Linked DNA regions of Homo sapiens: regions 1, 3 and 4 are each linked to region 2. The links come from fine-mapping of genetic effects on gene expression. A gene starts in region 2. Each other region holds a variant in brackets. All regions are shown on one strand. Distances are between the middles of the regions.

Region 1 (7,915 bases), 130 kb after region 2:
GGATCTAATCTTTAGTTGGGTGGTAGGATTGGAAGTATTGTTTTATTTGGGGGCTTCATGACTTTCTGTCTATTCATATAAAATATTACATAATAATCTTTAAAGTCTTTGCTAAGTTTACCATCATTTGCGTAGTTCAGGGAGAGGACCTAGAATATAACTAAGGCAACAGGAAAATAATGTTCGAAGGGGATTAGAGAAGTCCACATCATCTCAATGACAAAGAACTCACTGAGTTCTTAAGAAAATGTGACTGAGTGCAGTAGAGTGGCAAAGTAAGAGGAAGCCATGCCTGCTGAATGAATTAACAATTTATGAGGGAACAAATCATCATGTGGTTGGGGGAACCAGTGGCTGTAATCTATTTAGGCCAAAGTATATGATTAAAGGCTGTACCATGAGTTATTAAAACCCTGACGTCCTTGTGACTTGGCGAAATGTTTGTTCATGGATAGGGAGGCAGGGATCAGAAGTTAAAAAAAAAATTTGTTTAAACGAAGAATTAAATTGAGTCTTCATCTTTGTGTAGAAGTATAAGAGTTTTGTTTCTGTAGTCATCAGAGTTGATATTTGCCAGTAGCACATTTTCAGTGAATGATTTGGAAGGGCAAGAAAATCCCTTGGTCAGATGTAACTGAGTGCACCCAAGTGCTGAAACACTGAACAAATGCAGCTCGGTCAATGAGATCAGGGCCTGTTTGGCTCAGAAATACAGCAGATGAGCTCTAGTGTAGATAGCACCTGTGCTTGGTAACTTGCACCTCTCATTAAAGTCTTCTCTAGGCACTGATCATCCGTGGGAAAACACTGTAGCTTGGGTGGTTAAAGGCTTTTCCCACACTTAGTCTGGAATGGAATCTCTTCATGGTTAAATAGTAAGTTCTATTTCTGGTGTCATTTGTGTGACTCAGCACAATCTCATTATCCCTCTTTAGAAACATCCATGTCTCATTCACAACCTAAAACCCAGACTGAGTCCAGGGTTGAAGTCTCTGTCCAGCCAGCGGTTACTACATTACACAATTGTTATTTTTGTCAACCTATCTCAGTTTCCTCATTAGGGAAATGAAAGGGTTAAACTGGACTATTTCTGAGGTCTCTTTCAGATGCAATATTCTGACTCTGGGAATCCATTTGCAAAGAGCTGGATGTTGGAGAGAGCCCTCTGCAAGGTCAGCATGAGGCTAACATTAGCTGCCTTCTTGCTCACACTGTTATTTGTGCATGAGATGATGTGGACTTCTCTAATCCCCTTCAAACATTATTTTCCTGTTGCCTTAGTTATATTCTAGGTCCTCTCCCTGAACTATGCAAACAATGGTAAACTTAGCAATGACAAGCTAGAATCTTCCAGAGTTTATTTATTAATTTGCTTCTGCTGTTGTATATTAGGTATACAACTTAGGTGATGTGTGAAAAAGCCCATTAACTTTAGTGAGCCTTCATATGCTGACGACAGATATATTTTATATTGGTCCCTGGGGGAATGTTAATGTGAGCTATTGTCTATATCTAAAGGAAAACAACCACTCAGGATATTAGCTAGTGGATACAACTGTGCTTGCATAAAGTATCCTAAACATCCATGTCCTTCAACTCAGAGTGAATGTGGCCATTGATAAGTGGCACCTAGGAAAGTAGAGTCATTTTTTTTTTAATTTTGGTTTTTAATTAAAGTAACATATAGTTTAAAAGGCCAAATTGTGCTAAAAGACTTATAACCAAAACCAGCCATCTCCTGTGACCCTGCCCCCTACTCTCAGTTTCAACTGTTTTTGGTATTCTAAGTAATATGTATGTACTTCTCTCTTGGTTCATTCATGTTAGACATTATCTGTGTACTTTTTATTTTCTTATGCTTTCCCTTCCTCTTTCTCCCTAATCCCTTCAGAATAGCTATATCATAAATTTTTATTAAATCCATATCCAGATTTTTAAATTATTTTGCACATGTAAATATTGTTCACACCTATGCCAGGTTGTACTATGAATATTTCCTTATATAACATTTTATATTTCCTGACTCATTTTTTTTTTTTTTTGAGACAGAGTCTCACTCTGTCACCCAGGCTGGAGTGCAGTGGTGTGATCTTGGCTCACTACAACCTCCGCCTTCCAGGTTCAAGCAATTCTCATGTCTCAGCCTCCTGGGTAGCTGGGATTACAGGCACGCCACCACACCTGGCTAATTTTTGTATTTTTAGTTGAGAAGGAGTTTTGCCATGTTGGCTACACTGGTCTCCAACTCCTGACCTCAAGTGATCTGCCCACCTTGGCCTCCGAAAGTGCTGGAATTTCAGACGTGAGCCACTGTGCCCAGCCTCCTGACTTGTTTTTGTATTTGGACTTTTCCACATCTTCCAACAGCTCTGTAAAAATATGTCCATCCAATTGCACCCATTCTTGCTATTTTAGCTCTATCTGAGCCTCCTTCCACTTCAGTTGGACTGGCCTGGGGCACTGCTGTCGCTCCAGAGTCTCCCGTCATGATCATCCTGAGGGTTTTCCTTGCCCCTCTTCTGGATGGGCATCCTCCTTGGCAAGGAACATCCTTCCTGTTCCTGCATTCCAGATCTTCAGCTTCATCATTTTCCTCCCTGCTTTTGGTGGAAAACACCCTGTGACATCTTAAGGAAGCAATACCTTTTTGAGATTTTAAATATCTGAAAATATGTTTATTTCAATCTTACACTTGATTGATTGTCAAGTTGGGTATACAAATATGAATGGAAAATCATCCTCAATCAGAATTTTGAAGCAATGATTCCATTGTCTTCTAGCTTCCACATTTTCTATTCAGAAGTCCAGGGCCATATACTAAATATTTGAACCTGACCTTGTCCCCACCATTCCTTTACCTCTTTCAAAGCTTTTAGATGTTGTTCTTTACAGCTGGTGTTTTGGAGGTTTTGTTTTCTCAAATGATGATCAATCATTGTGTTGGGCATCAATACCAGGGTGGTGGTGAGTCCTGTTGATGTAGAAATGTGGGTTTTTCATTTCTAGGAGATGTCCTTCAATAATTTTCCTCCCCATTATTATTTTTTGTCTGTTCTCTCTATCTGAAACTTCTTTTGTATCTGTAACTCTTTCATTTGGATATTGATGTGTTGTATTTTTTTCTTGAGACAGGGTCTTACTCTGTTGCCCAGGTTGGAGTGCAGTGGTGCAATCATGGCTTGTTGCTGCCTCAACCTCCAGGCTCAAGCAATCCTCCCACCTCAGCCTTCTGTGTACTTGGGACTACAGCCATGTGCCACCATGTCTGAGTAATTTTTTTATTTTATATTTTTTGTAGAGACAAGGTCTCACTATGTTGCCCAGGCTGGTCTTGAACTCCTGGGCTCAAGCAATCAGATGCTCCTACCTCAGCCTCCCAAAGTGCTGGGATTAAAGGTGTGAGCCACTGCACCCAACCAATGTCTTGTATTGATCCTTTAATTTTCTTAGCTTTTGTATTATCCATCTCTTGATCTTTTTGTTGCACTTTCTGGAAAATTTATTTAACTTTATCTTCTAATGTTTCAATGAATTTTTAAATTCACCTGCAATATCTTTCAGTACCAAAAACTCCTTCTTGTTCTCTAACTGTTCTTTTTTAGTGTCCTGTTCTTGCTTTATTTTTCTGATGATATAAGTTATAGTTTCTTTGAAAAATAAAAAGAGAGAGCCCACTTCCAGGCTTATTGAGGTTTTAAGTAAATTTCAGTTCCACGTGGTTGGAGGACACAAGTTCCCGTTTCTTCCCGGCTGTTGGCCAGGGGTTAACCTCAGCTTCCAGAGGCCCCCTGCATTCCTTGGCTCGTGGCTCCTTTCACTCCAGCAGCAGTGGGGAGAGTCTTCCCCACCTTAGAATCTCTGCCTCTCTCCTCCTGCCTCATCTCTCCAACACACTTCTTCCAACACCCCTCTACGCCCTTTGTCTTCTGTCTCTAAGCACTGATGTGAGTACCCTGGGCCCACCTGGATGATCCAGGATGATGTCCCCATCTTACCATCAGCTGAATAGTGACCTTAGGAGCATCTGCAGAGCCCCTTCCACAGCAGCATCCAGATGAGGAGTCTCAGGGAGACCTCTTCAGAATCCTGCCTGCCACATGTATACACACATATTGAGTCTTAACCACTTTGTGAGATACAGCTTAACAAATATGTACACACATAGTGAACCTAACTTTTTTAATGGGGACAACTTTATTGTCCCCATTTAAAAAATATGAAAACTGAGGCATAGAGAAGTGAAATGACTTTCCAAG[G/A]TCAGTTAGTAGGCGGCAGAGCTGGATTCACACCTGGCAGTGTGTCTCCAGATACTCCCTCTCTGTTACTCGCCAAGATGCCCTGCAAGCCAAATGCCATCTCAAACACTGATGACAGGTGTATTCATATTTTGAAATTAATAAAACTGTGAGAGATAGAGTTGAATGTGAAAGGTGCAAAACTGCCCATTTAAGGCCTTCAAGTTTTCTGGATATAGAGTGCTTTCCTTTTCATTCATAGGATTGGTTCATAATCTTTAAAAAAATATAATGTTTGCAGACTGGGTACAGAGAATTGAAAAGGAAGGCATGCTAGTTACTTGGCATGTAGCAGGACTTCGAATTGACAGGTGGAGAATCTGAGGCCAGAGCCTCATTGCCATGTCTCTTCCTGCAGCCTCCACTCTGCTCTCACTTCCCTCTCCTCTGTTAAATTCCCTACTTCATGGCCGGGTGCGGTGGCTCACGCCTGTAATCCCAGCACTTTGGGAGGCTAAGGCGGGTGGATCACCCAAAGTCAGGAGTTTGAGACCAGCCTGGCAAACATGGTGAAACCCCATCTCTACTAAAAATACAAACATTAGTGGGGCATGATGGCCAGGCCTGTAATCGCAGCTACTCAGGAGGCTGAGGCAGGAGAATCACTTGAACCCGGAGGCTGGAAGTTGCAGTGGGCCCAGATCGCGCCACTGCACTCCAGCCTGGGTGACAGAGCGAGACTCTGTCTCAAAAAATAAGTAAAATAAATAAATAAATAAAATTCCCTACTTCAGCTGCACACTTGCCACTGCTTCCACCCCATTTTCACTCCTCCTCACAACTAAATCCCTGAAAAGAATGTTCCAGATGCTCATTCATCCTCTCACTGACCCCTGCCACACAGGCCCCTCTGCAGGCAGCCTTCCATGCTCACTGCTCCATGAAGCCGTCCTGGTGTGGTCTTGGGTGAACTTGTCCACCCCAGGACACCCACTAGGCCATGTCTTACCAAGTCCCTCAGTGCTGGACAGGTGGGCCACTGCCCTCTTCTGGAACTTTCTTTTCTCAACTTCTTTGCTGCTGCTCTTCCAGGGCCTCCCCCTACCTTCTGACCTCTCTTTCTCAGTCGCCTCTGCTGATTTTTCTTTCTCCACCTGCCTCCTTATTTGCAATCCGCATAAGGAGAAGCAAATGCAGAGCTCTGGTGGGCAGAGAGGAAGCGCGGATGAGCGAGGTGGGAGGGGCCCGGGGTCCACGTGGAGCACGCCCCTTCCCAGCAAGGGGGGCGTTCATTGCGCAGAGCTCCACCAGGCAGGCGCCCAGGGATGGCCACCAGTCCCCGAGTTTCCAATGGCCTCTGCCTTCCTCAGACACCTCCCTCGCTTCAGCGGTTTCAGTAACCATACCGGGGCTGCTTCCTGCCCATGTTTTTGCCCATGCTTTTTACAGCATTTAAAAATGTATATGTTTGTTTCATCATAATTTACCTTTGTGGCTTAGAAATCAAATCATGGAAAGCAACTGTCTCCAACTCCACCCTCGCCGACCGCAGCCTCCGCCTCAGAGCCAGATCCTCTTCCTCTTCCTTAGTAGGCATCTTCTCCGACTCGGCTTCTAAGTCCGGCTCTTTTTGTGTGGGTTCCAGGGCCCTGCCGTGGGGGCAAAGAGGATGGAGTTGCTTACCCACCATTTCCTCTTGGCTGGCGGGCTGCTTATTGCGAAGGTGAGACAGAACTGTGGGGCGGGAAGCAGGAGAGGAATCGCCCGCACCTGGAATTTCTCTTTTAGTTTATTTGCTTCCTGGTTCCATTTTCTGTAAACTACAGCCAATCATTCTGTTCAGAGTGGAGCGTGGAGTGGGGTAAGTGGTGGTGAGAGTGCATGAGGAAACTTTTTTTTTTTTTGAGACGGAGTCTTGCTTTGTTGCCCAGGCTGGAGTGCAATGGTGCCATCTCGGCTCACTACAACCTCCGCCTCCCGGGTTCAAGCGATTCTCCTGCCTCAGCCTCCCGAGTAGCTGGGATTACAGGCATGCGCCACGAAGCCCGGGTACTTTTTTTTTTTTTTTTTTGTATTTTTAGTAGAGACGGGGTTTCTCCGTGTTGGTCAGGCTGGTCTCGAACTCTCAACCTCAGGTGATCCACCCACCTCGGCCTACCAAAGTGCTGGGTTTACAGGCTTGAGCCACCGCGCCCGGCCCACATTTTTATATAATAGTACATTTACTTGCAAATATTGGAAATGTTCAGCCTATTTAATTTCCACGTTTGCCTAATGCATGTGCTCTATCTCTGGATTTACAGTTATCGTCCATTATGAGCTGGGAATTTCTAGAGGACCTCTGTGTGTGTGTTAGTGTAGCACTTAGCACAATGTCATAAATAAATAGGCTTTTAATCATGCTGATGATATTGATCACACTCACGATGTCTGGGAGAGAAGGTGTTGGCTGTGCTGCTCAGTGGTCTTGATTTCTTAGAACTGGAGCATGAACAACATGCTCGAAATGCGAAGTAATGAACTGGAACGGTGAAGAAGGTCATAAAGAGCCTACCTGGAGGAGGATAGTGACGGCACTGTCACAAATGCTTTATATGTATTATTTAATTCTTGCAGTTCCCTCCTGCGGTAGGTCCAATTATTATCCTCATGTTCGAGTGAAGGAAACTCAAGCAGGGTGAGGTTAGGTTAATAACTTGCTAAAGTCACATGGCAAGTAAGTGTGGAGCCGGGATTTGAACCCAGTCATCCTGGCTCGGGGTCCATGGCCCTGGCTGGCCCTGGATGCCGCTGGGGGGCCCTCTGTAGGGCTGACTTGCCCTCCTCAGAAGCCCCTTCCTTAGCTTACGGCCACATAGCCCTCTGGTAGTCCTCATCACCAGCTCTGCTCTTAATTTGGCCATTTTCCGCCTTAGGATTGGAGTGAATCATCCTTCAAAGACAGAGCCACGTTCTGCACTGTGTTAAGCATAGTCCGTGGCTCACAGTTCATGCGTGAGCCACACACACATGCACACTTTGTTGGGAAGAAGAGCAACAATAAATTGCTTATTTAGAAATGGGCGAGGCCAGGTGCAGTGGCTCACATCTGCAGTCCCAGCACTAAGGAAGGCAGATGTGGGAGGATAGCTTGAGCCCAGGAGTTCAAGACCTGCCTGGGCAACATAGCAAGTCCCAGTTCTCCACAAAAAAGAAAGAAAGAAAGAAAAAAAGACAGGGAGAGAAATGGGTAAACTTGTCAAAACAGATAAAAATATATCCGTCTTCCAGTATGTATATTTTCTAATCTGTACACTCATCAGAATGTAGGGTTAGACTACATAATATACTCTGAAAATGTTCCTGTCATTATTTGAGAAATTATTTATTTTATAGATTCCAGCTGCATATGTTTCCTAACCTCAGGAAAAGCATGTTTCTGCCTTTATATACAATTAGTATTTCACTATCAGTGACAACAGTTCAAAAGAACCCAGACATGAAACAAAATCACCAATATTTGGGAACGCTGAAAAAGGCATGTGTATCACTCTCATATCAGTGTTCCAGAATAAACAATACGGGACTTTGTTAAATAATGCATCCACTTCTGCATAAACGTCTGGCAAATGCTGTTATTTCTAAGGAGATTCTTTAGCCCAGGACACCAGGGGAGATGGCTCAGCTTGTTCGTGACGTCT
Region 2 (7,915 bases):
TTACTCTCTGAAATTGTCTTACTAGTCATTTATTTATTTGTTTATTCTCTCCACCTCTCCCCCAGTCCCCAAATATAAGCTTCTATCTTGGATCTTTTTGTATCACTGCTGCTAAAACAGTACTTAGCACAATCTAGGCCCTGAAATAGATAACTGTAAAATAAATGAATAAACTCTACCATCCCTTATACAGTAGGTTTTACAGTCATCCCTCAGTATCCTCAGGAGATTGGTTCCAGGATCACCTGCGTATACCTGAATCTGCACATATTCAGGTCCTTAAACAGGCTCCACAGAACCTGCATATAGGAAGAGTGGGCCTTTGCCCTCTGAATACTCGCATTTCCCATCCCACGGATGCTGTATTTTCCATCTGCATTTGGTTGAAAAAAATCCGTGTCTAAGGGCATCCACGCTGTTCAAACCCATATTGTTCAAGATCAACTGTAGCTGGTGAGGTGAACTCTGCAGCTATCACACACCAGGTTCTAGTGAACGCTCTTAGGGGAGGGTAACCCATACAAGTGAATTAACCGCAGAGGTCTTAGTACACATGGAGTGGGAAGAAAAAAGTTATCCCCTGGAAGACAACTACAGACAATTGTATCAGCTATTTAGAAATCATATCAGCATATCTTATTTGCTGTGGAAACTTTAGGTAACATTTTAAAACGAATTCATTTCTTTTTATTATGGAAAATGTCAAACATAAACATGAGTAGATGTGGTAGGTAAGAAAAGCATAATGGACTCTCATGTACACTGTGGTGGATGCACTCCGGGGTGTCCCTCACCCTAGGGTTCATGCCCTGTGTACTCCTCTCCCTTTGAGTGTGTGCAAAACATGCTTTCTGGCCAACAGAATGTTCACATTTGAAGTTGCCCCCGTGGGATTGCTTTATGTTATATAAAATTCTGTCTTGCTGGAGACTCACTCTGGGGACTCTCCTTGCAGGCCTGACAAAATAAGTGGCTGTGCTCGGAAAGCCCAAGTGACAATGAAGTCCAGGTAACCTCTAGGAATTGCAGGTTCCCTCTTGGAGCTGAGGACAGTCTCCAGTCTCCAGCCAGCAAGAAGCCAGGGCCCTCGGTCCTACTGCTGCAAGGAAAGGAATTTTGCCTGTGCCCGGAGTCAGAGTGGAAGCCAGTTCTTCTCCAGTGAATGTGAACGCAGCCTGGCCAGCCCCTTGATGGCAGGCGTGAGACCCTAAGTGGGGGACTGAGTGTACCTGGACACCTGATCCATAAAAACTGTGAGAAAAATCTGTCTTGTTTTAAGGCCACTACGTTTGTGGCAATTTGCAGCAATAAATAATTAAGTACAAGTACATGTCACCCAAGGTCAACTATTTTCAACAGTTTCCAATTGTTTCATTTATACCTCCATGTCTGGAGCTGGGTGGGTGGGAGGAGGGGAGTGGATGGGCTGGTGTGTTTTAAAGCACATTTCAGACTTTATATTATTTCGCTGGCAGATACTTTAGTACATATCTCTAACAGACAAGGAAGGACTTTTTAAAAGCATAACCATAATGCCAGAAAAATTCGGTTTCATTGAGAATAAGAGTGGGAGTCTTTTTTAATGCCATCAAATCAATGGATCTATTATATTAATTGGACACCCACAGAAAAGGTGCTTGCAATAAACAGAATAAGAATAATACCCCGTTGATCTCATTAGCTAAAGGACAGGAAAGCATATGAGAGCTTTCACTTGAAATGTATGAAGCTTTCCAGTTGGTTTTTTAAAACTAGTCCAGCCACAAATACTTAATTGTCCCTGTAATATGCTTGTCTCTCATACAATATCTAAAATAATTAAAACCCAATTATTATCGTGTGCTTAAGATCCATTCTCCCTAGACTCTAACCGGCTTTGGAATGGACCCCTGTAAATTTCACTTGTATTCAAAACTCCTTGTAATTGCATGTCATACTCTAATTGCTATTCCCATCACTTTTTCCTTACCACAGCTCCTCCCAACTGGCCCTCTTGGATAAGCCAATCTCATCCCCCTTCGACACTCCTCACTGAGGCACGCTTTGTAAGGGACATACTTAGGGCTCTGGGTTCGATGCCATCTCTACTACTTGGGAGCTTTGTGATGTTTGGCCAGTAGTTAAGCTTTCTCTAAGCTGGATACAATAATGCCTCACCGGGTTCCGGCGAAGATTAGACAAAGAACATGTGTAACGTGCAAACTGCCCAGTACAGAGAAGGCACCGTTCCCCACAACCCCCTTTGTTGGTTCCCATCTCCCACCACCTAGCCCCAGAACGCCCAGCACCACGCCTCTCCTGCCCTTGTCGCGGGGGATGCAGGGACTTGTAGTTTCTAAGGCCCCGAGTCGTGCTTCTCCTCGGCGCAGGCCTGCGGGCGGAAGAACTACACATCCCAGTGGGCTGTGAAAGGAAAGTGGGGCTCGGGAAATTGAGCATCCCTGCCCAGCTGCCTTCGTTTTCTGCGGCCCCGGGGCTATGCCCACCTCTGCGGGGGCTCGGACCCGCGGCAACGCCTGGGAGGGCGCGAGCGAGCAGAAGCCCCAGGCTCCGGCCGTCCCAGGGCCGCGCCCGCAGCTCCTCCTGGGCTGTCGGGTGGGAAGGGGGGAGGCGCAGGCGGGAGAGGAGAAGCACGCGACCCCTCCGCTGCCGAGGGGGCTCCACGGGGGAATGGAGGGAGAAATAAAGCGAGCAGCTGTAAACGTCCGTGGGGAGAAGTGGAGACCGAAAGAGCTGGGCGGCAGCAACCCAAAACCTGGCCTCCAAGGGCTTATACTCCGGGAGGGAGGCCGGGGCCGGAGGGGACCCTGACCGCTTCCTCTGCCCTTCTTTCTCGGCCCGGAAGCCGGCCGAGCCGGGCCCCGAGACCCTCGCCCGCAGCCCGGTCCCGAAGTCAGGCCGGCCTAGGGCCGCCCCACCCCATCCTGGCACCCGGCACCCCCAGCCCATTTCTCGGGCATCACCAGAGTCCCCGGGCGACGCGACCACGCGCCCAGCTGGGGAGGAGGAAGAAGGGAGGCGCAGGCCGGGGAGGGTCACCTCCGCGCCGCGGCTCCTCAGGTCCCGGGGAGTCGCCAGGAGTGGCTTGCCGGTGGCCGTGGGAATGAGCGTGTCCCGAGGCGGCAGCTGCTGCGCGGGATAAACCCGGAAGAAGCCGCGAGACGGACTGAAGTCGGCCAGGAGCGCACTGCGCGGCGGGGCCGCGGGCGCCCGACCCCATCCCTACTTGGGCGATGCCACAGGGAGCCCCGCGCCTTCCACACCCCAGGGCGCCCGCCCGAGGGGGCTGGGGCTGGAATCTCGCTGCGCCGGTGCCCTGGCTTCGCGGGCGAGGAGGAGGAGGAGCAGGAGGAGGAGCCGCGGGTGAGGCGCGAGGCCACCGCCCACCCGGCCCGGAGGAGGCGGACCCACTCGGAGCGCCGCGCGCGCGCCGGGCTGAGCCTTGCAAACAAGTGTCTGTGCTGTGTCCCCGCGGCCCTCCTCGCGCCGGGGCCGCTTCCTCCGGGTAGGAGGGAGCAAGGGAGCCCTCGCCGCGCGGCCCGCGAGCCGCCGCCGCCCTCGGCCCGCGCATCCCCGCGCGGGGGCCGCGGATTCGACTAGGCTGCCAGGCGCAGCGACACCGGGTCGCGGTGCGAGCGGCGCCCCGGCTCTCGCCGAGAGGCTCCTGACAGAAAAACGTGCGTGGTTGTCCCCACCCCTGGGAGGGGTTGCCGGTGCCGCGCGCGGCCGCCCAGTCGCCAGCGCTCTCTCCTGGGAGGATCCGCTGCCGGAGGAAGGAGTGGACCCAACCTGGCCGCGCCGCAGAAGTGGCTCCCGAGGAAGCCGGCGCCGGGGCCGCCGCCTCGTGTCCCCTCGGGGCGCAGTGCTCGGGGGTCGGCGGGCCAGAGCCGAGGCGCGGCCGGGGAGCCGGGGGCTGCGGGGCCGAGCGGGCAGCCGCGCGAGGGGGCGGGCGCTCGGCGACCCGGGGGCCGGCCGGGCTGAGCCCCGCGCCCCGGGACGCGGGCTGGAAGCGACGGAGGAGTGCTGCCGCGGGCTGCGGACCAGCGCCGTCCCCTCACGGAGCGGGGATTCTGCTATGACAGTTGGGCTCCCCGGAGGGTTAACCTGGGTGTCCTCGGCAAAGTTGTCGCCGAGCCGGGAGCCCGTGTAGGGGCCGCGGCGCCGCGGCTCGGGGGGCGGCCGGGCGGCCGGCGGCGGTCGTGGCTCGGCGGGGCCCGCGCGGCCGGGGGGCTCCTGGGGGTGTGCGCCCCCAGCCGGCTGCCCTCGTGGATGCCTCCCGGCGGCGGCGGGCCCATGAAAGACTGCGAGTACAGCCAGATCAGCACCCACAGCTCCTCCCCCATGGAGTCGCCCCACAAGAAGAAGAAAATCGCGGCCCGGAGGAAATGGGAGGTGTTCCCGGGAAGAAACAAGTTCTTCTGTAACGGGAGGATCATGATGGCCCGGCAGACGGGCGTCTTCTACCTGACGCTCGTCCTCATCCTGGTCACTAGCGGACTCTTCTTCGCCTTCGAGTAAGTGGTGGCGACCGCTCCCCCGACGCCGCACTCCCCTGGTCTCCCCTGTCCCCCGCCCCTCCTCGGGCTGCTTTCGTTTTCTAGAAGTCTTATCTACTGTAAATTGTTATATAATGCCAGTCTGCGCTCCCTCTTTTTTCTTTTAAAGGTCTGATTGCTTTTGGGCCCCCGGAAAGAACGCCGTTCTGGGCTGGGCTTCTGGGAGCAGGGAGGGAAGGGGTCCACTTGCAAGGGGGGCCAGGCCTTGCCAATCCAGGTGGCGGATGGGACCCAGCAGGTGGGGCCGCCGGTCCCTGATCCTTGGGGCGCTCTCTACCGAGTTTGGGGACCCAGCAAATCAGCCCAGATGTAGCCTGCCGTGGGAAGGTGGGGTGCGATAGATTCCTAAGTCAGGGATACATGGAACTGACTTTTTCCCCCTTGCTGACAACATATAGGGCATCTTCTTAAGCTCAGTTGACTGAATCTCCCATGTAACTTCGACGAATAATTGAGGAATCTTGGCTATTTCAGGTTTCAAAGTGTCGGCTGCCTAGTGTGCCCTGGATAGATCATTGCATTCTCCAGCCTCCTACATGCTCACTCTGGATTAACAATTTCTTATTTGCCATGAGGTTTCTAAACTCTTCACTTTCAAAAAGGTTGCAATAAAAGGTGTCCAAAACAAACAATTTGGGAACATGTGAAAGGAGACCTTAGGTCTGTTAAGGAAGAGGATGACACTACGTGACAACTTCCGATTCCAGAAACAGTCTGGACTTCAGGGATTATATCTGGGGGGATAAAAAGCGCATGCAAGTCTTCACCGTTTTCAGGAAAATCAAATTGGCCAGTAGCAACTGTCCTCCTGCCAACTAATGAAAGGTCTTCTTATTTATTAGCAGTGATTAGATAAAGCAGTTAAACCACATTCCAATCAATTTTGGTTGCTTTTTTTGCATCCAACATTTGGAATGCAACTCCTTATGTAATTTCTGGTATCCTATGTTCAATGAAAGGTGGAGTTACTTTTTTCCCCTCAGAATTTAAAGAAAGCAATATATTTATAGGGAGCTCTTCTTTGGGCTTCCCAAATCCTGGTTATTATTGGGCTTGATACTCCTTCAGTCTCCGCCTCCTCCTGTTGGGTAGGCTCAATTAAAACCTTTTGAATTTATTTACTTTTGTTTCTGATTAGGATTAATAGGCTCTAATTTTGTGCCTGGCTTTTGCTCTTCCAAATGCTGTCTCAATTGGAAATGAATGATCTCTTGACAACGTAATACTTGTCGCTCAAAGCCCTCTGACTCTCAGGAGAAACGTTTTGTATCTGGACACTGTGCGCTGATTAGCAGTTTTAAGAGGACTGAGTTAGACCAGGCGATGAGAAGGATCTCTGATTTAAGCGAATTCCCCTTCCCCAGTCCTTCTCACACACAACTCCTCTTCCCCATTTCCGATGGTATGTGCAGTTCCCGGGTCCCCCTTGATGTTTAGGTTCTGTGTCTGTTTGACACTAGTAGGTAGAGTCAGTGGGGAGACCTGTGGACGGGAGGGGAAGGGTGTGAACAGGCATTCAGAGTGGCAGGGAGACACACTCTACTCATGCTGCTGTTGCTCCCATGGGCCCCCATTGAGAGCAGCCTCTTGTCCTTACAGACCTTGGAAACTGGAAGAAGGGGCATAGAGGTTCCCCATGAGTTTACGTTATCTGTTAGGATGAACACTGGCACTGGAAGCGTGATGCCATGTGGTTTAACAGAAATGCCATCTCTCTAATGGTGAATTTAGTTACAGGTGGTCCTCTAGTTGCAGAGTATTAACTGTGTTCCTACAGTTTTTTAAAAAAAATCTTGAACAGATCCAAATTGGCACTTTTGCTCTTTTTAGCGATTTTAACTGTGGAGAAAATGGGTTAATTTTGTGATTCTGTTGCAGAGCTTCAGCCACAAGTGTGCTCCATGGAGGATGATGAATATTTCATTTTCTGTATATACCCAAGTCCCCACTGTATGCTTAGGGATCCCCCCAGTTATTACTTAACATCTTTTATTTTCTTCATTCAAACATAGCTTCTAACCAAACCATCATAAATTCATTTTCGTTTCTTGATCTCTGCGTGTGTTTTTTCAAGAGTTCCCAAAAGTCCTCACTAGCAGGTTGTTAAGGATCTTTCTCTGTGTCAGTGTTATGTTAACTGATGACTGTAGGAATAAATGTGTGCGCCGGGATTTTATTAGCTGCTATTTGCAGCATCTTTTTTATATCAGCTCTGTGGGAGCGTATGTGTGTATATGTGTGTGTGTTTGCTCTCCATGGTTGTTGCTTCAACTAGGCAATTTGACATTTCAAGAAAACAAGAGGCCCATCCTAGTATGATGCCTCTGTTTGGAAAAATCAGAGGCTATTCGAGCTACAGAATATTATGGTTTAGCTGAGAATATTTGTCACTGTATTGCTTTCAAATTCTTTATTCATAAATTAAATAACCAATTTGACCAAATTAATTTGCTAGAGACCAAAGAACAAGTTAACCCCATACAGAGGAAGAAAATACCAACAGGCCAATCCCTAAGCGAGATCCAGAGGAAATGCCAGTACTGCCTGCCCCTGGCCTGCCTTTCTCCTGCCTTCCTCTAGTTATGTGGTCCTCTATTTTGATTGTTTAATTTCATGTCTAGATAGCTTTTTTAAAAATTTATTTTTAATTTTTTATAGAGATGGAGTCTGCCTATGTTCCCCAGGCTGGTCTTGAACTTCTGGCCTCAAGTGATCCTCCCGCCTTGGCCTCCCAAAGTGCTGGGATTATAGGTGTGAGCCACTGCACCTGGCCATCATGTCTAGATAGCTTTTTATTGGAGACAGAGTCTCACTGTGTTGTCCAGGCTGGAGTGCAGTGGCACAATCATGGCTCACTGTAGCCTTGACCGCCGAGGCTCAAGCAATCCTCCCTTCTCAGTCTCCTTAGTAACTGGAACTGTAGGCATGCACCACCACACCCAGCCAAGTTTTGTATTTTTTGTAGAGACATAGGGGTCTCACTATGTTGCTCACTATGATCCTGGGCTCAAGCGATCTCCTGCTTTGGCCTCCCAAAGTGCTGAGATTATAGGCATGAGCCACCGCACCTGGCTATCATGTCTAGATAGCTTTTAATATTAGTAAACTTCATTGTCAAACATTAGAATTGCGTTTCCCCAGTTACACAAAAGCAAATAAAATGTGTGACAAAAAGAGTGAATAACTTAGTCATTTAGTTTTAGCCCTCCCCTGTCTGCAATTCTTCTCTCATCCCAGCTCTCATTCCTGACCTTGAACAGATGGACAAGAAAGTTTGTCCAAGAGAAATGAACTTACTAGAACTCAGCAACAGGTGTTGATACAGTCTTTAGCCCCTGGAGAAAGGCAGGGTAGAAATG
Region 3 (7,915 bases), 160 kb after region 2:
CAGGAGGTTAACATTCACAGTCATGGGCAGGGTCTGCTTATTGCCTTGTCTTTACCACAAGGACTACAGATGCTCTATGCTTTTTCTAAGCAGCATTTTGAAGGTGTCTCAGTAGCCCTGACCTCATTGTTTAGGGTTGGGAATTCTGCCACTTTTATAAAAAGTGAGTTGTTGAGGATTTCTAGGACAAACTCAGCACTGTCCTCTGTCACACACAGAGGCTGGTGGAACGGGACTGTCACAGAGCACCTAGCATTATACAGAGTTGTACCAACATATGGTGCTGCATCTACTAGAACTTTAGCACATGGAGGGTCTTAGAGGTTCCAGCAAATGCCCACAGAAGGTGAACATGAGGCACACTCGGCTCAGCGAGCTGAGGAATATCCTGTCCTCTCAGCTGAGGGAGCCTCGCAGAAGGAACTGGGCCTTAGCATCTGTCTGAAGGAAGTTACAGGACCTAGCGAGCTGACAAAAGTAGAGAAGTTCTAGACCAGGTCTGTGGTTGCTGAGGGTATGGGTGACTTGACTCTCCTCCTCTTTCAGGTGTTACAGTAAAATTCACTAAATGGATTCTATTCATTCAGCTACTCAACAAATATTTATCAAACTTAGTTGCATTTTACATCATGCGAGGCATCCTGCTAGGTGCTACAAAGGACACAAAGAGGAACAGGAGCCAGTCTCACCCTCCAGGACTTTTAATCTAGTGAGGTGCATGGAGCATGTCCACAAATAGCCACATGTCCAAGGAGAGGAGCAAAGAAAAACACGGTGGGGGTTCAGAGAAAGAAGCGATCCCTTCTGCTTAGGGGGTGAGCCCAGAAACTCTACCAAGGCTTTTCAGGAAGCGGTATTGAGCTGGAACTGGAAAGTTGGGAGCATCAACATGCTGAATGGGAGGTGCGGGTGTTCCAGACACGTGGGCTGGACAGGCAGCGCTGGCGGTGAGTGAAAGCGGGTGCCTGCCTGAGACGCCCAAATGTTAGGTGTGGCCATTGCTGGGATTCAGGAGGGGGCAGTGAGAGAGAGGGAGAGAAGGTGACTGTGGGGGACTTGGACACCAGATAAGGAGCTCGAGCTTCATTTGGTAGGAACGGCGGAAGCATGGAGGGCTTTTGAGCAGAGACACGTGTGATTGGAGCTGGCGGTGGTGGTTGGGACAGATTGAAGGAGGGGATCATGGTAGGCAGGTATGAGGTCACTGTTCTAGGCTGGGTGTGGTGGCTTATTCCTGTAATCCCAGCACTTTGGGAGGCTGAGGCAGGAGGATTACTCGAGCCCAGGAGTTTGAGACCAGCCTGGGCAACAAAGTGTTTCTACAAAACACACAAAAAATTAGCCAGGTGTGGTGGTGAGGACCTGTAGTTCCAGCCACTCAGGAGGCTGAGCTGGGAGAATCTCTTGAGCCCCAGGAGTTCAAAGCTGCAGTGAGCCATGATCATACCACTGCACTCCAGCCTGGGCAGCAGAGTGAGGCCCTGTCTCCAGAAAGATAATAAATAAATAAATAAACAAACAAACAGATCACTGTTCCAGCTGTCCCCCGGAGAGAAGACAAAGAGGGCTTCTGAGAGGAGGGACTGGAAGGCAAAACAGCGTGGAAGGAAGTCCCTGAGTGGGAGGAAGCTGGCCGTTTCTATTTAAGAAGAGGGAAAGAGGAAGACATTGCAAGTGGGCCATGCACCTAGGTTCCCCCGGGGCGTCCAAAGCACTCACCAATGCGAGTCTAGGTAGAGCCGGTTTAACCATCTCCTAGACCCAGAGCACATAGTCGCCTTGTAACAGAACTCTTCCTGTAGGCTCTTTCCTGCCTCCCTCTCTACTTCACCTGCTTTATTCTCCACCGTGGAGGGGCCAGAAACTGCAGCTGGCGAGCTGGGGTAGTGGAGGGGGCTTAACTTCACATCAAGGTAGAAGTTACCGTTATTCACTGGGATTATTACTCTTTCATTTGCTTAAATGGCACTGTTTGCTACTTAAAGCGACAAGGACTTCCTATTACCTTCATATTATCATCAGAGAAGTCACTAGACCTGCCTGAGATTTCCTGCGGGGACAGGAGCAGGAGCAGGTTCCCAGGGAAACACAGACAGAGGCATTTCGGATCCATACCCTGATTTGTCCAAGTGCAACAGCCCACTACGCAGTTAGAGAACCCGGCAGGCAGTAGGCCTCCCCGCGTCAACTGGACTTTGCCTTTTCCTCCTTTCTGGGATGGCTCTGAACAAATCAGTGTGTGCTCAAGTGCAAATACCAATCTACAGTGTATTATCCCTGCAGTGAGAGTGTGGCAGGGGACATCCTGGTTAGGGGGTGGAGGTGATGAGAGGCCGCAGAGGCATCAGCCTGGGGAAGTGGGGTGGCTGTGGAAGATCCCAACCCTGCAGAGAGTGCACTTGGGACAGGGAACGGTGGAGGGCAAAGCATGCTAGAACTTGCTGTAAGAGCAAGAGGCAGCCTTTGCAACTTTGAGCAGGTGGACTTTGCGGTCCACCAAGCTGCGTCTCAGACCCAAAAAGGAAAAAATAAGCACACCAAAGCCTAAGATCTACTAAGTCACCCTCACAGGAGGGTTCTGGCCATTCACAAGTAGCCATCCTTGGAGAAGCTCCATAGAGTTAAATCACAGCTGTCAACACCTGAGGTGGAACACTCTCTCCTAACCGGGTCTGTCTGGTTCACGTTGTCCAGCTGTGCCCTCGCTGAAACTGGCTTTGCTGTGCCAACATCATCTTCAAATTCATTAATCTTGAGAAGGGGGAAAAACGTGGGCTTGTTTTACTCACTGCCATTGTTCAAACTATGTCGAATTGTGAATTTAAGTTTTTTTGGAAAATTCTTTTCTACACAGTTGCTCTTTTCCCTAACCATTTTGTAACAAAAAATTCCCCCTAAAGTAGATTATTTTAGACTAAAATTATATGTATTCAGGGTTTATATATATAACATATATAGATATATATGTATGTATGTGTGTGTGTGTGTGTGTGTGTATATATATATATATATATATATAATTTCATACCAGGGTAATTTCATGCCTTCAATGTAGACTGTGTTTCTTTTTTTAACATTTTATTTGGAAATAATTTCAAACTTACAGAGAAGTTACAAGAATAAGAGTAGTACAAAGAACATCCATTCACCCTTTACCCAGATTCACCTCTTGCTAATACTTGATCCCATTTGCTCTGTTTAGACAATATTTTTTTGAGCTATTTGGGAGTAAGCTGCATTCATCATGGCACTTTATTCCTAAATACTTCGCTGTACATCTCCTCATGCTAGGAAACTTGCACAGCCAC[A/G]GTCCACATTGTCAACATCAGCGATTGCTCCAGGAAGCTGTGTCTAGGTCTGCAGGCCTCTTGAAGGCTGGTGCACTAATGTTCTATCACTTGTCTCAGCAAAGGGGATCACGGCTTGTGGCTCTCAAGTCCCAGACTCGTGCCAGCATCCGTTTGCCATCCATCAGAGACCTGAACAGCAGTGGGGTGCTGGTTCCCAGGGCTTCCAAGACCAAGAGCCCTGTCTGCTTCCTAGTCTTGAGCAGAGCTGAGCTTCCCAATCCTTTCTTCTCCAGCTCCCCATCTCTGTTTTGTCTTGAGAACATAGAAGAGAATCTTCTGATGAGGTGGGCAATCTAGCATTGTTTTCCACGCCAGATGTCCTAATTCCGTGATTCTGCGTCATGTTCCCCAATGCCCATGATGTTATTTAATGTGGCGACAATGGACTGACTGTGGTCACTGCAGATCCCATCCTTCACTTAGGTCCAGGCATCTGACTGCATCAAGGGGCCACGGTAAGAACTGCTCCAGCTCTAGAATACCTGGATCTGAGACCAAATGTCAGACACTGGTTCCCAGGCTGGCTCGTGTAGAGTTTAGTCTGTCCCAGTGGCACTTCTCCCTGACTCATAACAATCCCTGCTTCACGTCAGCATGTCAGACTGACAGCAGTGAAAAGGTCGAGTTAAGAGTTGGGCCATGTTCATCCATTGATAGCTCAGATGCCCTCTGGAAAAGCATGAGATGATTCTATTCCAGCTGCTGAAATCCCTTAAATCTTCTTCCGAAACCTGCCTGCAAGTCCATTTCCATAGCTCATTCACTTTGGAATAGATTACCTCCAGAACATGGAAAATTGGTTTCTTGCCCTTTGAAAGTGTGTGTACAGTCCTCAGCGTTTGGTGCTGGCTGAAAGTTCCCGAGTCATTTGACCCAAGTGGGAAAGGCTGGCTCTCATGAAGATCATTCTAAATTGGTGTCTTCTTCTGTTATGTAATCCCAGGGGAGGGCAGGGGGATCTCATAGACTCCCGAACCGTGTTTACAGCACAGAGGACACGTGTCTATTTATACAAGCTCTGTGCGTCTTAGACTGATTATACAAGCAGGACTATTTTCATTCTTCTGCCAGCATCTTCCTGTAAGAGCAGAGGGCTTGGGCGTCATACTGGGGAGTGGGGGTTCAATTGTCTGTAAGACAGAACTGCAGACCTCCCCAAACGTAAATCTTTCACATAGATGAATTTTTAATGGAAATCAATTTCTCTCCTCCAAATAAGCTTTTGATTTCTTAGAAGATAAAGACTGCTTACTGTTGATTCCTAACATTGTATTTCCTTTCTTTTCCCCTTCTCTCCGGTCTGTCCAACCTGTCGGCAGCTGTCCGTACCTGGCGGTGAAAATCACCCCTGCCATCCCTGCAGTCGCTGGCATCCTGTTCTTCTTTGTGATGGGGACCCTGCTCCGCACCAGCTTCAGCGACCCCGGAGTCCTCCCACGAGCCACGCCTGATGAAGCCGCCGATCTGGAAAGGCAAATAGGTAACACTGAAAGTCTGCCCATGGCCTCTGGTCACTTCCCGCCTGGGCCCAGCTACAGTGGGGACGGCAGGCCGAGGGCTGTGCAGGAGGAGCTGAGCGCTGGGAAGGAAGGAGGCCAGAAGTCAGCGTTCCTTAGCTCGCTGGGTGGGCAGGATGAGCTGAAGAAGAGGTGGGATATAAGGCTGGAGGGACAGGTATCCTGGAGGCAGGACTGCAGGCCCACTCGAGCAAAGCATCAGTGTGAGCTGTGCTTCTGATGTTTCTTTGAAACCCAAGTGTTTGATTCCACTCTACTAAGCAGCCTCCACCCCGAGAGATTACAGTTGTAGGTTGCTGCCCTTTCTCCCTTTTGCAATCCTTGGAGCATGACCAGTTTCCATGATATAAATCTAGGAAAGTTACATCTTAGGCAGCTTTCTTGTTTATCCAGGCCAGGATTGAGAATTTCCTTTATTTAGGTATAATAAACATGTATCTGTGATATGTATTGAGATGAATAGCTTTATTTTTCCTTAGATATTAAAACCTATACTAAAGTTTATTACAACCCATTTTGAAGATATTAAAACAGATCCTAATCCCTTACACAACAAACTTTTACAGTTTTTTTTTTTTAATTAAAAGGAGTGCTTTTTCTTGCTCTTAAAAGTTTGTGATTGTGAATGTATAGCTTTGCTGTGGTGCTTTGGTAAATTTCACAAGCATGGCAGAGGAGCTGTGATGACTTGGTGTGAACATAATGTTTAGGCCTGAAAAATCACTTGGCAGAGATAATTCTCTTCCAGGATTCCTCCTATTCTATGGACTTTCCTTTGCAGCCTTCACTAAAGCTGGAGGGACCTCCCTGTCTACAGTGTAAGAAGATAGAGCTGTGGATCTTGCTGAAAAGTGCCTATTCTGGTCCTACCATTCCCCAAGTACTAAAGCACAGCTTTGTCCTTCTCTCGACATCTGCCTTCATCCTTCATCCCTGCTGCCTGGAAAGGGAGCAGTAAAATGGGAGTGTGTGGAGTGTGTGGTGTCATCTGCTAGACTGCAGCTGTCTTGTGTCCTGAGGTAGGAAGGAGGGGGAGGGAGAAGCAGCAGTGGGCAGACAATCTCTTTCTTAGCCCCTGCATCATGGGATTCCAAGACAGGGCATGCTAGTGCATAATTTTAAGGCTCACATTTTGTAGCACTTTAATCGTTTGTCAGGCCCATCCATGGCTATCACTGCATTTTTTTCCACATCTAAGCCACCTAGTAAGGAAAACTTTATTATTACACCCATTTTACAGATAAGGAAACAAAGCCCCCAAGAGGGGCTTAAATGGGTGAAAGTGGCAGAACTGGAGCCTAGAACCCAGGTTTCCAGATTTCAGACCTTGTTCTTTCCAGCTCCTCATATCATTGAGGAGAGAGAGGGAAGTCAAACCTAGTTTCCTTCAAAACTGTATGGTTTATGCCTACAATATATGAGCAGGTAACTTGAAAATCCTCTTCTCAGTGCAAGGGCCCAGCTCCCATACTGGGGGTGATGCAGTTTCCTGCAGTGATCCCCATCTCCAGGTTAGTGCAGGTGCATCTGCAAAATCAGCACGATTAGGAACAGACTTTCTGCCTTTCTTACAAAGTGGATGAGGCAGGGCACGGTGGCTCATGCCTGTAATCCCAGCACTTTGGGAGGTCAAGGTGGGAGGATCACCTGAGGTCAGGAGTTTGAGACCAGCCTGGCCAACCTGGTGAAACCCCATCTCTACTAAAAATAAAAAAAATTGGCAGGGTGTGGTGGTGCGAGCCTGTAGTCCTAGCTACTGGGGAGGCTGACGCAGGAGAATCGCTTGAACCCAGGAGGCGGAGGGTTGCAGTGAGCCAAGATGGTGCCACTGCACTCCAGCCTGGGCAACAGAGCAAAACTCTGTGTCAAACAACAACAACAACAACAACAACCAAAAAATAGAATAGTGAGATGCCACTTCACACCCTCTAGGATGGCACTAATCAAAAAGACTGACAATGACAAATGCTGGTGATGATTTGGAGAAACTGGAACCCTTGTACATTACTGGTGGGATTGTAAAATGGTACATCCACTTTGGAAAGCAGTTTCTCAGAATTCTCCAAAAGCTAAACACCATTACTATATGACCCAGCAACTCCACTCCTAGATATGTCCACACAAGGACTTGTATATGAATATTCATAGCTGCATGAAACCTAACAACCCAGATGTCCATCAGAGGATGAACTGATGATCCATATGTGGTATATCCATACAATTGGATTCCATGAAGCAATAAAAGGGAAGAAAAGTATTGATACAGGCTACAACATGGACATTAAAGACATTTGCTAAGGGAAAGAAGCCAGATACAAAAGACTATGTACTGTGTGATTCCATTTGTATAAAATGTCAAAGAAAGCACAAATCTTTACAGACAGAAAGGAGATTAGTGATTTCCTGGGGCTGGGAGGGTAGGAGTGCAGGTTAACTGCACATGACATGAGGGAGCTTGTTGGGATTATGAACATGGTCTAAAATTAAGTCGTGGTGATGGTTGCACAATGCAATAAATTCACTACAAGTCACTGAATTGCACACTTTCTATGGTGACTGCTGTGGTACATAAATTATACCTCTATGAAGATGTAAAAAAAAAAGGAGGAGGAGGCCGGGCGCAGTGGCTCACGCCTGTAATCCCAGCACTTTGGGAGGCCGAGGCAGGCAGATCACGAGGTCAGGAGATCGAGATCATCCTGGCTAACACAGTGAAACCCCGTCTCTACTAAAAATACAAAAAAAATTAGCCGGGTGTGGTGGCACACACTTGTAGTCCCAGCTACTCGGGAGGCTGAGGCAGGAGAATGGCATGAACCCGGGAGGCAGAGCTTGCAGCCGAGATCACGCCACTGCACACCAGCCTGGGCGACAGGGGAGACTCCCCCTAAAAAAAGAAAAAAAAAAGTAGAAGGAGGGTGGGAAGGGAGAGAGGAAAAAGATGGGGTGGAAGAAGCAGAAGGAAAAGAGGAAGGAGAGGGCTTTGGAGGGCCTCAGACATGGGTTTGAATCCTGGCTCACCCTTTCTCTAGTTGCGTGACTTAGGTG
Region 4 (7,915 bases), 60 kb after region 2:
AAAAGAGTGTAATTTACCCAGAAAAAAATATACTTCTTGAACAGGTTGCTAAGGTGTCACAAATTTGGGCTTTCCTGGCAAGAAGAATGCAAGCATTTAAGGTAAGAATGCTTTATGGAAAGTTCTTGTAGATTCTAGAAATAGGATTGTTTTTCAAATGGAGTGATTAATTTTATTTTGCAGGGAGAGGAAGGAAATCTCTAAGGTAGCCATATTAAGATAATTTTAAAGATTGTAAGGTTAAAATCTGGACTTTGAGTTGCATTTGGAAGTACAGAAAATCAGCAAGACTCTTGAAGACAAATGCCACGTGCAGACATCTCTAGTTTTCATCAGCTGAAGTTCACAAATTACCTTCACAGTTATCTCAAAGTACAGCACAATGCTGAAACCCCCCTGTGAATTTGCAAATGTGAGGATCACCATAGTAACAACCATATTAAACTTTACATTTTAACATTGTTCGTACAAGACGCTTGTGTCTTTGTAAGACTTTCTCAGGGAATAAAAAGTTTTTCCTTCCACTGTACCACAAGATATTTCCTGCTTATCTCAGGCATTGTTTTTGAAATCCGAAAGTCTGGATGTCATATTAAAAGCAGCCAAAATATTCGTGTTGGTGTCAGGATGTTAGAGTACTATTTCCAATAGCAGTTGGAGCTAGAGCTGTGGAATTTATGGATGTGTTTGGCTGTGGAGGATTGCAGAGAAAGCTGTGGACAAATATATTTTATAAGTGATAAATTCAGAGTATTGTCTGGGCGGTAGAGAGTGCCAAGAACTGAATTCATCTAGAATTGAGCATTCGTGCTGAGTTAGCCACTCCACTGCTTAGAGAATCATATTGCCAACAAAGAGTTTTTCTGGCAGTTCATGTGAGGGTCATTGAGCAACTTTTAAAAAAGTACCCTGTCACTTGGGTTTGGTACAGTTCCCCATCCAGAGAAACTCTGTCATGTTCCCTGTCTAACATATCCATTTATATCTCTTATTTCCTGCTAAATATTTCCGTTCTTCATTTTCAAAACATCTTAGGGCCTTTAAGAAAATGGCAACTACAGTTGCAGAGTGCTAGAATGGGAGAAAGTTTTTGCAGTCTACCCAACTGACAAAGATCTAATATCCTGAATCTACAAGGAACGTAAACAAATTTACAAGAAAAAACAACCCTATTAGAAGGTGGGCAAAGGACATGAACAGACACTTCTCAAAGGAAGACATTTATGTGGCCAACAAACATATTAAAAAAAGCTCAACATCACTGATCATTAGAGAAATGCAAATCAAAGCCACAATGAGATACCATCTCACACCAGTCAGAATGACCATTATTAAAAAGTCAAGAAACAACAGATGCTGGCAAGGCTGTGGGGAAATAGGAACATTTTTACACTGTCTGTGGGAACATAAATTAGTTCCAACATTGTGGAAGACAGTGTGGTGATTCCTCAAAGACCTAGAGCCAGAAATACCATTTGACCCAGCAATCTCATTACTGGGTATATACCCAAAGGAATATAAATCATCCTATTACAAAGGTTCATGCATACATATATTCATTGCAGCACTATTCACGATAGCAAAGACATGGAATCAACCCAAATGCCCATCAATGATAGACTAGATAAAGGCAATGTGGTGCATATATACCATGGAATACTATGCTGCTGTAAAAGCAGACAAGATCATGTCCTTTGCAGGGCCATGGATGAAGCTGGAAGCCATTATCCTCAGCAAACTAATGCGTGAACAGGAAACCGAACACCGCATGTTCTCACTTACATATGGGAGCTGAACAATGTGAACACATAGATACAGGGAGGGGAACAACACACCCTGGGGCCTCTTGGTGGGGTGTGGGAGGAGGGAGAGCATCAGGAAAAATGGCTAATGCATGCTGGGCTTAATACCTAGGTGATAGGTTGATCTGTGCAGCAAATCATCATGGCACACGTTTACCTATGTAGCAAACCTGCACATCCTGCACAGGTACCCTGGAACTTTAATAATAATAATAATAATAATAATAATAAAGAACACTTACAACTCAATAGCAGAAATACACACAGCCCAATTTAAAAATGGACAAAAGGCTCAAATAGACATTTCTGCAAGAAGAACCAGCAAGCCAAAAGACACATGACAAAATAGAGAAATTAGTCACTAGGGAAATGCAAGTGAAAACCACCCTGAGATACCTCTTCACACCCACCGGGATTGTGATAACTGAAAAATAAAAGGAACATACAAGTGTTTATGAGGACATAGAGAAACTAGAAACCTTGTACATTGCTGGTGGGAATGTAAAATATTGCAGCCACTGTAGAAAACACTTTGGAGGTTCCTCAAAAAATTAAGCTTAGAATTAATATATGACCTAGCAATTCCATTTCTAGGAATATACCCAAAACAATTGAATACAAATACTGAAAAAATACAAACATGCACATGTTCACAGCAGCGTTCTTTACAATAGCAAAAATGTGGAAACAGCTCACATGTTCATCAATGAGTTAATGGATAAGCAAATTGTGGGATGTTCATAAAATGAAATATTACTCAGCTATAAAAAAGGAATGAAGTACTGATACATGGTACAACATGGATTAACCTTAAAAACAGGTGCTAAGTGAAAGAAGACAGAAGCTATCACATATTTTATGGGAAGTGACTGCTTCATGTGTACAAGTTTTCTTTTGAGATGGTGAAACTGTTTTGGAATTAGGGAGAGTTGAGCTAAGACAACATTGTGGTTATAGCAAATGCCACTGAATTGCATACTTTAAATGGGTAATTTTACCATATATGAATTTTATCTTCATAAAAAGGGAAAAAAACAAACGAAAAGGAATGTGACTTATGGGGGTCTTTTCAGTGTAAACCCAGAGGAAATCTAAGTTTCCAAGATTTCCTTTTCTGTCTCTTTTTTGTGGCTGTG[A/G]TAGTTTTGTGTCCGTAAGTGAGCCACTAGTGAGAGTTGAAAAGAGGGAACCACACCTTTTAGGAGGTGGAAGTCAGGGCAGAGATAGAAAATAAGAGATAGTGTTTTGTCTGGAAGGATCGCTCATGGCTCAGATTTTTGTAGGCTTTGCAAATCCTCCATTCTGTCCCAGCAGGTTTCCGATCATTTGAGACGAGAGCTCTTCAGCTAGAAGTTGTTCCCAGGAAGACACCAAACACTTGTTCTTATTTCCAAATTCTGTGAATCTGGTTATTTGTTCTCTGTTGCTGTAGCCTCCTCATTGCTCACTGCTTTTGGAAGTGTTAGATTGGCAGATGTGTTGTGTGGGAGTGAGGAAAGGAAATTTCCTATGTTAATTTCTTTCTGACAAGCACATGTGCAAATCTAGACACAGCTTCTTGAACAAAAAAGAAACGGATGAAAGAAAAGAAAAAATCTGGCCAGGCACGGTGGCTCACACCTGTAATCCCAGCACTTTGGGAGGCCAAGGTGGGTGGATCACCTGAGATCAGGAGTTTGAGACCAGCTTGGCCAACATAGTGAAACCCTGTCTCTAAAAAAATTCAAAAATTAGCTGGGCATGGTGGTGTGCACCTGTAATCCCAGCTACTCGGGAGGCTGAGGTGGGAGACTCACTTGAACCCTAGAGGAAGAGGTTGCAGTGAGCCAAGATTGTGCCACAGCACTCTAGCCTGGGCAACAGAGTGAGACTCCGAATCAAAAAAAGAAAAGAAAAAATCAATATTCCTTAGTCCATGTGTGTATGTGTGTGTGAGATTTCCATACAGAAAAGATTTCTGTTTCGTGGAAACAATATTTTAGCATTAGCATTACAGTTAACTCATGATACCAATCTTTTATCCTCTTGATGCCTCAGATTTATTAACTATAGAATGGATATAGTGATGCTTGTTATCCAGCCCTCAGAATAATAGAAACAGTGCTCTGTTGAAGAAATAGATTACATTCATAAAGTTTTTTGAAAACTTCATCTGAGCATGGTGGCTCATGCCTGTAATCCCAAGCATTTTTAGAGGCTGAGTGGGGAGGATCCCTGGAACCCAGGAGTTTGAGACAAGCCTAGGCAACATGGTGAAACCAAAAAAATACAAAAATTATCTGGATATGGTGGTGCACACCTGTAGTCCCAGCTACTCAAGAGGCTGAGGTGGGAGAATCATTTGAGCCCCGGAGGTCAAGTCTGCAGTGAGCTGAGATCACGCCATTGCACTTCAGCCTGGACGATAGAGCGAGACTCTGTCAAAAAAACCCAAACCAAAACAAAACAACTTCCATACGCTACATTCATGAAGTAGGAACTATGGCTGTTACTACAGAATTGCTTTGGTAAGAGAAAGATGAGTCATGGAATGCAAGAACCATTTTCCTCCTGGCTTTCGAAACTCTAAGCCCCGCTCTCCCAGTGTGCCGGTTTGTTGGTGGCAAGATAAATATCACTTCCATTAACTAAAGAGAAGAAAAAGTTGTTTGCAGTCCATCAGTGTTTTGCCTGGGCGATTTTCTCCTGATGTAGAAAGCGTACCCTGGAGGGCACGAGGTTACGTGCTGTTTTGCCCCTGCCAAAGGTGGCCCAAGTCTGAAGCCCGCCCAGCAGACGCCTCCTGAAGAACAATTTGCTCTTCTCCTTCTGGCTCTTACTCAGCAGGTACGCTCTTAGAGGCAGCCTCTGCCACTTGCAGCACCCCTGGTGGATTTTATTTTTTAAATAGCAACAATTCTAAGACCTTTTTCAAGGAAGGCTTTTCCAGAGCTTGATCTGGAACATCACTGGGCAGACTGAGGTAGTCATTTCCTCTGTTACTAGTTTGAAGCCAATCAAGTAACTGCCTGTCCCCAGGCCTCTTGGGTTAGGGTCTGATATGGTTAGACTCTGTGTCCCCACCCAAACCTCAGATTGAATTGTAATCTGAATTGTAAACCCCATATGTTGGGGGAGGGACCTCGTGGGAGGTGATTGGATCATGGGGGCAGTTTCCCCCATGTTGTTCTCATGATAGTGAGTGAGTTCTCAGGAGATCTTATGGTTTTATAAGGGGCTCTTCCTTGTTTGCTCTGCACTTCTCTCTCCTGCTGCCTTATGAAGAAGGTGCTGCTTCCCCTTCCACCATGATTGTAAGTTTCCTGAGGCCTCCCCAGCCATGCTGAACTGTGAGTCAATTAAACCTCTTTCCTTTATAGATTACCCAGTCTCGGATATTTCTTTATAGCAGTATGAGAATGGACTAATACAGGGTCCCACTGCCTGTGTGAAGGGGAGCATTGTGGCAGCACCCGGGGTGATCCTATCCTGAACCCCATCCCTTTTGCTCTGCGGCTATCCCTTGACCTCAACCTCAGCATTCTTTTAAGGGAAAGCACCGTGAGCTATGAAGAAACCAGATGGTGGAATTTTAATAAAACCAAAAACATAAGCCAGGAAACCACTAGACCTGTTCTTTGAATGACTCACAGTGGCTGCCATCACTGGTGGTGAAACCAATCTATGTGGTGAGGTTTAGCACATGTCCAGCTTTAAAATGAATGGCCAAGGGTATTTTCCCACCCAAAGCTAAGATGAACTAGCTGCACATGGATATTCATGGCTCTTATTGATCTGATACACTCTGGCCCAATTGATCGACTCATGTTTGAATCCCAGTTCTGCCTCTTACTAGCTGCATGACTTTGGGTAGTGCCTTACCTTCTCTGGAACTCAGTTTTCCTCCTCTGTAGAGTGGAGATGTCTGCCTTCTAGGGTTCTGCTTCAGATTAAATGCCATAACCCAGATAACACACTTCAGAACAGAGCCTAGTGTACCGTAAGCACTAGTAAATGAATATGGTATTGTTATCTTATTATTTTTCAGAGTCAGCTAGCATTTAATAAATGTTCTATGTGTGCTCAGCATTGCACTAAGTCTTTATGTAATATTTTGTTTATTCCTCACAATGATCTCATGAGCAGGAGGTTAAGGAACTTGCCCAAAGTCAAACAGTAATCGTGATAGAGCTAACAATCTTAATATAAATTAAACTGACTCCAAATTATTATACAGCCTTCTGCAATATTATTAGATGGTCTCTACACCCGCAATGAAGCCTACAGTTAGTGAGCATATCATACTTAATGACAGAATCCCAGGGTACACATTGCAGTCTCTGCCTTTTGTGATTGGATGGGCTGTTTGGTAGCGGACACCACGGAATACACATTGAGGCAGGGAGCTCTGAGACTGGGGAGAGGCTCCAAGAGAACACTCAGTAAGAGGATATACTAGGCTGGGCATGGTGGCTCACGCCTGTAATCCAAGCAATTTGGGAAGGTGAGGCGGGTGGATCACCTGAGGTCAGGAGTTTGAGACCAGCCTGACGAACATGGTGAAACCCTATCTCTACTAAAAATAGAAAATTTAGCCGGGCATGGTGGTGCACACCTGTAATCTCATCTACTCAGGAGACTGAGGGAGGAGAATCACTTGAACCCAGGAGGTGGAAGTTGCAGTGAGCCAAGATTGCACCATTGCACCCCAGCCTGGGCGACCGAGAGAGACTCCGTCAAAAAAAAAAAAAAAGGGATATACTTTGCCCCTACATCCAGGAAAGTCAGTAACACTTTTCCCACCTCAGTTGCAGAAGACATTCTGTGGGCATCTTTGGTAGAAACAGCATTCACATTCCCCACTGAGGGCCGAGTGGAGGGGCCTTCCATGGTCTAGTCAGCTGCTCAAGGATGAGACCAAAGTGGGTACGGGAGGGGTCACTAGTCATTGAAAGGTCAGGCAGGAGCATCAATGTACTGATCAAGGCAAAGCCCAGAAGTGGGCATGTGGCCAGAAGCTGGGCTCAAAACATAACAGGGATCCCAGTGTGAGGAGGCCAGAGTTGAGGGCAGCAATTCTGACCATGTAGACAGAGTCCAGGCTGGGGAAGGGACCACAAGGGAAACACCTGGTGACTCTGGCATGGGTCTTAGCACTGCCAGATATTACACACACACACACACACACACACACACACACACACACACTCTTCATATCTATCTATCTATCATCATCATCATCATCATCATCATTTTATATATATAAAAACCTGTTGAAAATAATAGCTCTGAATTATTGGAGATAAATGAATGTTTCCAAAAGAGATGGAAAGATTCAAAGAGTTAATTTCACCTCTGTCTTCTGCCAGCTTCTTATAGCAGTTTTGATTAGACAAGAGCCATCACGGTTTATTAAAAATAAACAAAGCCAAGATGCGCCAGAAATAGATGAAAACCTGGTTCATTTGTCTTGCCTCCGTCTCATTCCTGTTACATCTCCATGTCATGCAGTTAGTTGTCTGTCCAAAACAGTTTCTATTTTTAAAGCAACAGAGGATACTTTTCAGGCTTGGGTTAGAGAGGCCTCTCTTTGGACCAATGGTCCCTCACGGTGTGTGGCAAGCCCCCTCTGCCCCCTTGGGTTGGTGAGCGGAGAGTTCTTTTAAGCCTAATGTCCTGCAGAAATTATCTGGGAAATCTGTTAAAACAGAGTCTGGTCTGAAAGTGAAACATCTCCTTTCCGCTTTTCTTATGCCTTTAATGGTTTTTTAAACTACTATATTTAGACGCAGAAAAAAAATAACTGAGGCAAGATGGTTCTGGTTTGGAAAAAGCCAGAGAGAGAGAGAGAGAAAGAGAGAGAGAGAGGTTAGGATATAAGCCTAAATGCTATCAAATGCCTAGTGTTTAGTAGTTATGAAACCGAGGCATCAACTTAATATCCTTCTCCCAGCAAATTATCCAGGGCAAAGTCATCGCTGGGGCCAGAACCTTTTCAACAGATTGGACTCGCTACATGGTGCTGACCCAGAAGGGTGAGTCAGTTGGTAGTGTGGGGTGCATGAGGGCCATTGCAGGTTTTGATAATTACCCTTTATTTTAATTTGATCATACTTTTTTGTTTATAACCTTATTCT

Evidence for each region. PIP is the estimated chance that this variant, and not a neighbour inherited with it, causes the effect.
Region 1: its variant is the best candidate, but not a certain one, in a credible set for the expression of ZDHHC14 in cerebellar hemisphere (GTEx, PIP 0.69).
Region 3: its variant is the best candidate, but not a certain one, in a credible set for the expression of ZDHHC14 in whole blood (INTERVAL, PIP 0.59).
Region 4: its variant is the best candidate, but not a certain one, in a credible set for the expression of ZDHHC14 in whole blood (INTERVAL, PIP 0.63).

Annotation. Positions count from the first base shown.
Region 1 is chr6:157,505,260-157,513,174 of GRCh38, forward strand. All of the region lies in intron 1 of ZDHHC14 (zDHHC palmitoyltransferase 14), which reads left to right. Among named protein-coding and RNA genes, the nearest start is that of MIR3692, 20 kb to the right of the region's middle. RefSeq lists a silencer at 544-744. The variant G/A (reference allele first, on the strand shown) is at 4,257.
Region 2 is chr6:157,377,753-157,385,667 of GRCh38, forward strand. ZDHHC14 (zDHHC palmitoyltransferase 14) reads left to right here and starts at 3,438. Exons shown (of 9, transcript NM_024630.3): 1 at 3,438-4,514. The coding sequence starts at 4,270. LOC124901446 reads right to left here and starts at 3,339. Exons shown (of 1, transcript XM_047419644.1): 1 at 1,562-3,339. The coding sequence starts at 2,949. The coding sequence ends at 2,059. RefSeq lists enhancers at 1,762-2,374, 2,986-3,597, 4,356-4,495 and silencers at 2,576-2,655, 2,816-3,705, 4,216-4,265.
Region 3 is chr6:157,537,916-157,545,830 of GRCh38, forward strand. ZDHHC14 (zDHHC palmitoyltransferase 14) reads left to right here. Exons shown (of 9, transcript NM_024630.3): 2 at 4,670-4,830. Among named protein-coding and RNA genes, the nearest start is that of MIR3692, 13 kb to the left of the region's middle. The variant A/G (reference allele first, on the strand shown) is at 3,309.
Region 4 is chr6:157,438,160-157,446,074 of GRCh38, forward strand. All of the region lies in intron 1 of ZDHHC14 (zDHHC palmitoyltransferase 14), which reads left to right. Among named protein-coding and RNA genes, the nearest start is that of ZDHHC14, 61 kb to the left of the region's middle. RefSeq lists a silencer at 214-414. The variant A/G (reference allele first, on the strand shown) is at 2,939.